Linked DNA regions of Homo sapiens. The protein of the gene in region 1 interacts with the protein of each later gene in a biochemical or structural test. Each region holds a gene or a part of one and is shown in the gene's direction. Other genes may lie near its edges. The genes, in order: ITGA4 and LGALS8.

Region 1 (3,925 bases):
ACTGATTTTTAACTTTCAAAATTTTGGCCAATCTACAAGGTATTTACTGGGATGAAAGGAAAAAAGGCAAGATTCCTAGTCAGTCAATGAGTTAAAACATTAATAGTGATAGTAATGCCTTGAGTATTTGCCGAAGAGTTGACTGAAGTTATTTCTCATGTAACATTCTAAAGAATACAGATATCTTTTATTCCTCATGTAAAGAAACTGCCTCTCTATTCAGAATAAATTCAGTGGTAGCTTGAAGCTATAAAATAGGGATTGAGGCTACAGTCTAGAAATAAAACACTAAAAACAATACATTGGTAATAAAGATAATTTAGGATTCTTAGGTTTGTGGGCTATGCACTATTTTGTATGAAGAAGTTTCAAGAGTGTGTGTAAATATATATAAGCCATCTTCTGTAGAAGAGTGTGTGTGTGTGTGTGTGTGTGTGTGTGTGTGTGTGAATCTTCTGTATAAAATAGCTTCAGTTGTCCTGTTTCAAATGTGGGTGACTCTAATGTTTCAAAAATGCTTAGCTCAGTACTGACACATAATACATTCAAAAAATAGTGGTTCTTCTTTATTGTTTACTTAAATCTATTATCTGTATGTTATCTGTAACAAGCAGGCTGAGGTTAATAGGGACAATTGATAAACTGAACCAAAAGTTTAAAAATTAAAAGGTAATACATTAAAAGGTAGAAGTTGAAATGAAACACAATGAGAAATTTTTGTTGGCTGAAGAAAAAAATGTTATAATGATTAAAGATCGATCTGTGATTGCCATGTCAGTAAGGTATCTTCTTTCCTTTGGAATAGCTTTACTTGCTATCAAGAACCTGAAGGTGTAGGGTCTTCAAATGGTGCCCATCTCCCACACAATTAAAAATATCCACATGGACTAGTCTTTGAGTCTCTGTAGAATTTCAGATCAGTGGTTGATTCAGATAGACTCCTCCCCTCAAAAGAGAAGGTCCATATCTCGCCTACCCTACCCTCTGTGGACAAGGTGTCCCATATGGTATATTCATGCCATAAGCAGAAGTGAGCCTGCCTGTTTATCTAGAATGCCCAGGGTGAGAGACGTTAGGCATGAGATACCCCTTTTAGTCAAGCAAGTTGACTGCAGAGCCAGCACCAAGAGAGTTGCCTGGATAGTACCGCAAGGTGCTTTTCTTCCTGCATATATATTGTTGGCCTCCTTTTACCTCCCTGACTCCCCAAGAGACATCTCTTCTCTCACTTCTTTTGTACCAGAGGAAAGTGGTCTCTCTGCCAGGAGGGTCTGGGCCCAGACTTGCTCGTGAAGACTATATCTGAGGAGACCCAGGTGATTTCTACATGTCCACTTTCCACCCGGGCACTCTGCATCATCAGGCTTGTTTAAAGGAAACTTTAATCACAGCTGGTTCCTAAATTAAGGTGTCACAAATAATGACTCAATTAATATAGTTAAGCATAGTCCATCCATGGACTATCAATATTCAAATAGAACATAATAAAACATAGAAATGATTATCAAATTACACTAAAAAGATGGTCTTTATTTGGTTATTCAAATATGTTTCCAGATCTTTCATTACTTTGGAGTTACCACTGAAAGCATTATACACACACTAACTCTCATTTGGGTAATAGTCTAAAGTTATACAATTACACTATCCAGTATAGTATCCACTAACCACAGGTGGCTTTGAACACATAAAATGTGGCTAGTCAGCGATGAGAGGGCTGTAATGTAAATTACATACTGGCTTTTGAATACTTAGTATAAGAAAACTCATTAATTTTTATGATATATATTGAAACAAACACTTTAAAATTATTGATTACATAATATTTTGGATTTATTAGGCGAAATAAAATTTTAGGTTAAATAAAATTAATTTTATTTTTACTTTTTTCATGTGGCTATTATAAAATTTAAAATTTCCAATGGGCTTGTATTATATTTCTATTGGACAGCACTGCTGTAGAGAAACATTAAGTTCTCTGTGTAAAAATAACGCTATCTCTTTAGGAGATGCTTTCCTGATATTTATGCATAAATGAGTAGAACTTTCACTTTCTTTTCTAGACTAAGTGTTCTATAGTTACTGGGCCTTCAAGCTGCCTGCCTGTCCCTCTCTTACAGGAAAGACCCATCTCAAGTTAGTCACCATTACCCATATTTAGATTTCTTTCTGGAAATTTTATTACCTTAGCCAGCCTCCTGGTTCATATTATATAACCTATTTGAAAGAATTTAATTAGCATTGCATTATTAAACTAATGATTACCTAATCCTCACTTCTACTTGATTCATAGGAGTTATTAGCTTAACATTAAATAGCAAATATCTCACTGTTGAAACTTCAAATATGTTTTTCTTGATAACTTTTTACTTTTTCATTTGCAATGTGCTTTAAATTGTAGCTTATGAAGCTGAGATTGCAGATTGGTCATTTTGAAAAATCATCCCTGAATGAAGGCTGTTATACAATTATGTAGAAAATCAAGACAGAGAGCTTCACTAATAAACTATCAGGTTACCAGAAAGAAGTTTCCTTATTTCCAGCAGTTTCCCAAACTTTATGTCCCAAAAGGATGAGGTTTCCACCTAATTTGAGAGATGAGGCTTTCTAAATGCACTTTAGTTTTTGCCTTAAGTTTACTTGGTCACTGAGTGATATACCCAATGACTTGAAAATATATCCCCTTGGCAACAGTTCTAGGGTCAGATGCTGAAATCCGTTGCACATGTGGGTAATTTATCCATTCAGTTGTTCATTGAGGGATGCCTAAGGGCCTGAACCTGGGCATACAAAAGAAACATACTCCTTGTCCCAAAGGCTTTAAAGTTTATAAGATAGGTTATTATAGGAAAGTATGGTGAGATTTAATCTAGGTAAGACAATAAAGTGATGCATTCCTGAAGAATTGGTGTTCAAGTGGGGGAACTGAAAAATAATCAGAAGTTAGCCAGAGGAAGAGGCTATGGAAAAGTTTGCCAGAAAGAGCAAACTGTGTGTATAAAGACCCTGAAGTCTTTGAGAGCACGATGCTTTTGAAGAACTAAAAATTGTGTACAGTTGCACTATGGAGTGTGAGCTAAACTGTAGGTTAGAGAGGCAGGCAGGAATTACTTCTGATACAACTCTAAGTATGAATTTACCCTAGGATATTTAAAACTGGGGAGTGACATGATCAGATTTGTGTGTTTGACAGATTCTCTGGTTGCAGGTTAGTGAATGCTTTGGAGTAACTGGGTCAAGACTGAAGGCAATGAGGCAGTTGTAGGAAGATTTTGTTATAATTTAGACTACAGATGACAAGTGTCTGTACAAGGACACTGGCAATAGCAGTGGAGAAGAACATGGAGATTCTGAAGGTATTTAGGAGATAGCACTTGGTAATTATTGAATGAAAGAGATGAGTGAGAATGTTCCAAAGATGTTACTGAAGTTTCTAATTTGGGCTGTGACATGGATGATGATCCAATATACTGAAAAAGGGAAGAGCAGCAGGTTTTCTGGCAAAATGATGAGTTTCGTTGGCTTGAGATTCCTGTGAGACATAGAAGTAAAAATCTAGTGATCAGTTCTATGATCAGTTCCATGTATGGGTGTGGTAGACAGTAGAGAGGTCTGTACTAGCAAATCAGAGGTGAGTAATTGACGTAACCCCATTCACCTCCAAGGCTTTGATTACCATCTCTCTGGGGTAAATAGATCAAATGGCCAATGGCAAATTTCTAAGGATTCCTACAGTTCGAGAAGTGATTAGAATAGTGCTGCTCAAGTCTGGCTGTAACTTAAATTCTCATGCAGAGCTTTTAACAGTTCTGGTGGCCCATCTCAAACTACTAGAATCTCTGGGGTAAGTCTATAGGGCACCAGTAGTTTCCAGAGGTCCCCAGATGATTCCAGTATTCATCCATGCTTGAGAACCGCTGGAGAA
Region 2 (3,925 bases), on another chromosome or scaffold:
AGAGGGGCTGTGTTGAGGAAAGGAGGGCCGCAGGCCCTGGGGATGGTGTGAGGCTCCAAACATGTCCGAGTCACTTCCCTGGGTGGGATGAGGCAGACAGTGCCACCACCAGGGACACTTTAGTTAGATTAGGGTCTTGGAAGTCAGAAGGAAGTCAGCAGCAGCAGGCTGGAACTTTTCTATGTATAATCAAATGGTTTACTCTGACACCGTTAGCATGTAACAAACACAAAATTTTAAACTAAGGGGAACCACTAATGGCATGTATCCTTTCCTTTCAGATGATAATTTATTGTGATGTTAGAGAATTCAAGGTTGCAGTAAATGGCGTACACAGCCTGGAGTACAAACACAGATTTAAAGAGCTCAGCAGTATTGACACGCTGGAAATTAATGGAGACATCCACTTACTGGAAGTAAGGAGCTGGTAGCCTACCTACACAGCTGCTACAAAAACCAAAATACAGAATGGCTTCTGTGATACTGGCCTTGCTGAAACGCATCTCACTGTCATTCTATTGTTTATATTGTTAAAATGAGCTTGTGCACCATTAGGTCCTGCTGGGTGTTCTCAGTCCTTGCCATGAAGTATGGTGGTGTCTAGCACTGAATGGGGAAACTGGGGGCAGCAACACTTATAGCCAGTTAAAGCCACTCTGCCCTCTCTCCTACTTTGGCTGACTCTTCAAGAATGCCATTCAACAAGTATTTATGGAGTACCTACTATAATACAGTAGCTAACATGTATTGAGCACAGATTTTTTTTGGTAAAACTGTGAAGAGCTAGGATATATACTTGGTGAAACAAACCAGTATGTTCCCTGTTCTCTTGAGCTTCGACTCTTCTGTGCGCTACTGCTGCGCACTGCTTTTTCTACAGGCATTACATCAACTCCTAAGGGGTCCTCTGGGATTAGTTATGCAGATATTAAATCACCCGAAGACACTAACTTACAGAAGACACAACTCCTTCCCCAGTGATCACTGTCATAACCAGTGCTCTACCGTATCCCATCACTGAGGACTGATGTTGACTGACATCATTTTCTTTATCGTAATAAACATGTGGCTCTATTAGCTGCAAGCTTTACCAAGTAATTGGCATGACATCTGAGCACAGAAATTAAGGCAAAAAACCAAAGCAAAACAAATACATGGTGCTGAAATTAACTTGATGCCAAGCCCAAGGCAGCTGATTTCTGTGTATTTGAACTTAGGGCAAATCAGAGTCTACACAGACGCCTACAGAAAGTTTCAGGAAGAGGCAAGATGCATTCAATTTGAAAGATATTTATGGGCAACAAAGTAAGGTCAGGATTAGACTTCAGGCATTCATAAGGCAGGCACTATCAGAAAGTGTACGCCAACTAAGGGACCCACAAAGCAGGCAGAGGTAATGCAGAAATCTGTTTTGTTCCCATGAAATCACCAATCAAGGCCTCCGTTCTTCTAAAGATTAGTCCATCATCATTAGCAACTGAGATCAAAGCACTCTTCCACTTTACGTGATTAAAATCAAACCTGTATCAGCAAGTTAAATGGTTCCATTTCTGTGATTTTTCTATTATTTGAGGGGAGTTGGCAGAAGTTCCATGTATATGGGATCTTTACAGGTCAGATCTTGTTACAGGAAATTTCAAAGGTTTGGGAGTGGGGAGGGAAAAAAGCTCAGTCAGTGAGGATCATTTTATCACATTAGACTGGGGCAGAACTCTGCCAGGATTTAGGAATATTTTCAGAACAGATTTTAGATATTATTTCTATCCATATATTGAAAAGAATACCATTGTCAATCTTATTTTTTTAAAAGTACTCAGTGTAGAAATCGCTAGCCCTTAATTCTTTTCCAGCTTTTCATATTAATGTATGCAGAGTCTCACCAAGCTCAAAGACACTGGTTGGGGGTGGAGGGTGCCACAGGGAAAGCTGTAGAAGGCAAGAAGACTCGAGAATCCCCCAGAGTTATTTTTCTCCATAAAGACCATCAGAGTGCTTAACTGAGCTGTTGGAGACTGTGAGGCATTTAGGAAAAAAATAGCCCACTCACATCATTCCTTGTAAGTCTTAAGTTCATTTTCATTTTACGTGGAGGAAAAAAATTTAAAAAGCTATTAGTATTTATTAATGAATTTTACTGAGACATTTCTTAGAAATATGCACTTCTATACTAGCAAGCTCTGTCTCTAAAATGCAAGTTGGCCTTTTGCTTGCCACATTTCTGCATTAAACTTCTATATTAGCTTCAAAGGCTTTTAAACTCAATGCGAACATTCTACGGGATGTTCTTAGATGCCTTTAAAAAGGGGGCAGATCTAATTTTATTTGAACCCTCACTTTCCAACTTCACCATGACCCAGTACTAGAGATTAGGGCACTTCAAAGCATTGAAAAAAATCTACTGATACTTACTTTCTTAGACAAGTAGTTCTTAGTTAACCACCAATGGAACTGGGTTCATTCTGAATCCTGGAGGAGCTTCCTCGTGCCACCCAGTGTTTCTGGGCCCTCTGTGTGAGCAGCCAGGTGTGAGCTGTTTTAGAAGCAGCGTGTTGCCTTCATCTCTCCCGTTTCCCAAAAGAACAAAGGATAAAGGTGACAGTCACACTCCTGGGTTAAAAAAAGCATTCCAGAACCACTTCTCTTTATGGGCACAACAAAGAAACGAAGGCTGAAGTTCGCCTACCCAAAATGAAAAGTAGGCTTTACAGTCAAAAGTACTTCTGTTGATTGCTAAATAACTTCATTTTCTTGAAATAGAGCAACTTTGAGTGAAATCTGCAACATGGATACCATGTATGTAAGATACTGCTGTACAGAAGAGTTAAGGCTTACAGTGCAAATGAGGCGTCAGCTTTGGGTGCTAAAATTAACAAGTCTAATATTATTACCATCAATCAGGAAGAGAATAATAAATGTTTAAACAAACACAGCAGTCTGTATAAAAATACCGTGTATCATTTACTCTTTCTGCAGCTCTATACGATAGGCAGGAGAGGCTTATGTGGCAGCACAAGCCAGGTGGGGATTTTGTAAAGAAGTGATAAAACATTTGTAAGTAATCCAAGTAGGTGTATTAAGGCACCAAAAGTAACATGGCACCCAACACCCAAAAATAAAAATATGAAATATGAGTGTGAACTCTGAGTAGAGTATGAAACACCACAGAAAGTCTTAGAAATAGCTCTGGAGTGGCTCTCCCAGGACAGTTTCCAGTTGCTGAATAGTCTTTTGGCACTGATGTTCTACTTCTTCACATTCATCTAAAAAAAAAAAAAAAAAATCAAAATTAAAATCTGAGTCAGTCCGCCTGCCTCGGTTCTCATTAGTTTAATTCTTAATGCCTTGCACTTTCCGGCAATCATTCAATCAAAAGAGTGAAATGAAGCACATTAACAAAGCAGGAGGCGCCACGGACCGCCTCCCTCCACACCGCTCCTTCCGCCTTCATTCCTTGCCCACAGGCTTGCACTGGAAGCTGAATAAGAATCCCCAAAACTCAAACTTCCTAGGGATGCCACCCCTTTAGTAGCTCACACCTCCCCCCTCCAAGAGCTAAGAAACAAAGGAGAATGTACTTTTGTAGCTTAGATAAGCAATGAATCAGTAAAGGACTGATCTACTTGCTCCACCACCCCTCCCTTAATAATAACATTTACTGTTATTTCCTGGGCCTAAGACTCTATGTTCCAGAACTGTCACAGCTCCCCATGTCACACTCACTAGCTTGTGATCTTTGTCAAATAACTGAAATCTTTTAAGCCTCTAGTTTCTTCCTTTGTAAAACAGAGATAAAATGTTGTGGTTTTTAAGTGAGATAATCCAAGTAAAGCACCTAACATGGAGTAGTGAATGAACATCGGTTGCTACTAAAAGTGGACATCCTACTGCATCCTTAATGCCACTAGGCATTTCCATACAATCTGGG

What was found.
Region 2: the proteins of ITGA4 (region 1) and LGALS8 form a complex in vitro, tested with the Homo sapiens proteins (one study listed by BioGRID).

What each region holds. Positions count from the first base shown.
Region 1 is NC_000002.12:181,460,155-181,464,079, forward strand, and holds part of ITGA4 (integrin alpha-4 isoform 1 preproprotein), read left to right. Parts: intron 1-3,925. UniProt on the Homo sapiens protein: Integrins alpha-4/beta-1 (VLA-4) and alpha-4/beta-7 are receptors for fibronectin. They recognize one or more domains within the alternatively spliced CS-1 and CS-5 regions of fibronectin. They are also receptors for VCAM1.
Region 2 is NC_000001.11:236,547,731-236,551,655, forward strand, and holds part of LGALS8 (galectin-8), read left to right. Parts: exon of another isoform or gene 1-231; intron 232-281; coding exon 282-431; 3' UTR 432-3,171; coding exon of another isoform or gene 3,172-3,260; 3' UTR 3,261-3,925. Other genes in the region: HEATR1 (HEAT repeat-containing protein 1), read right to left, coding at 3,172-3,260.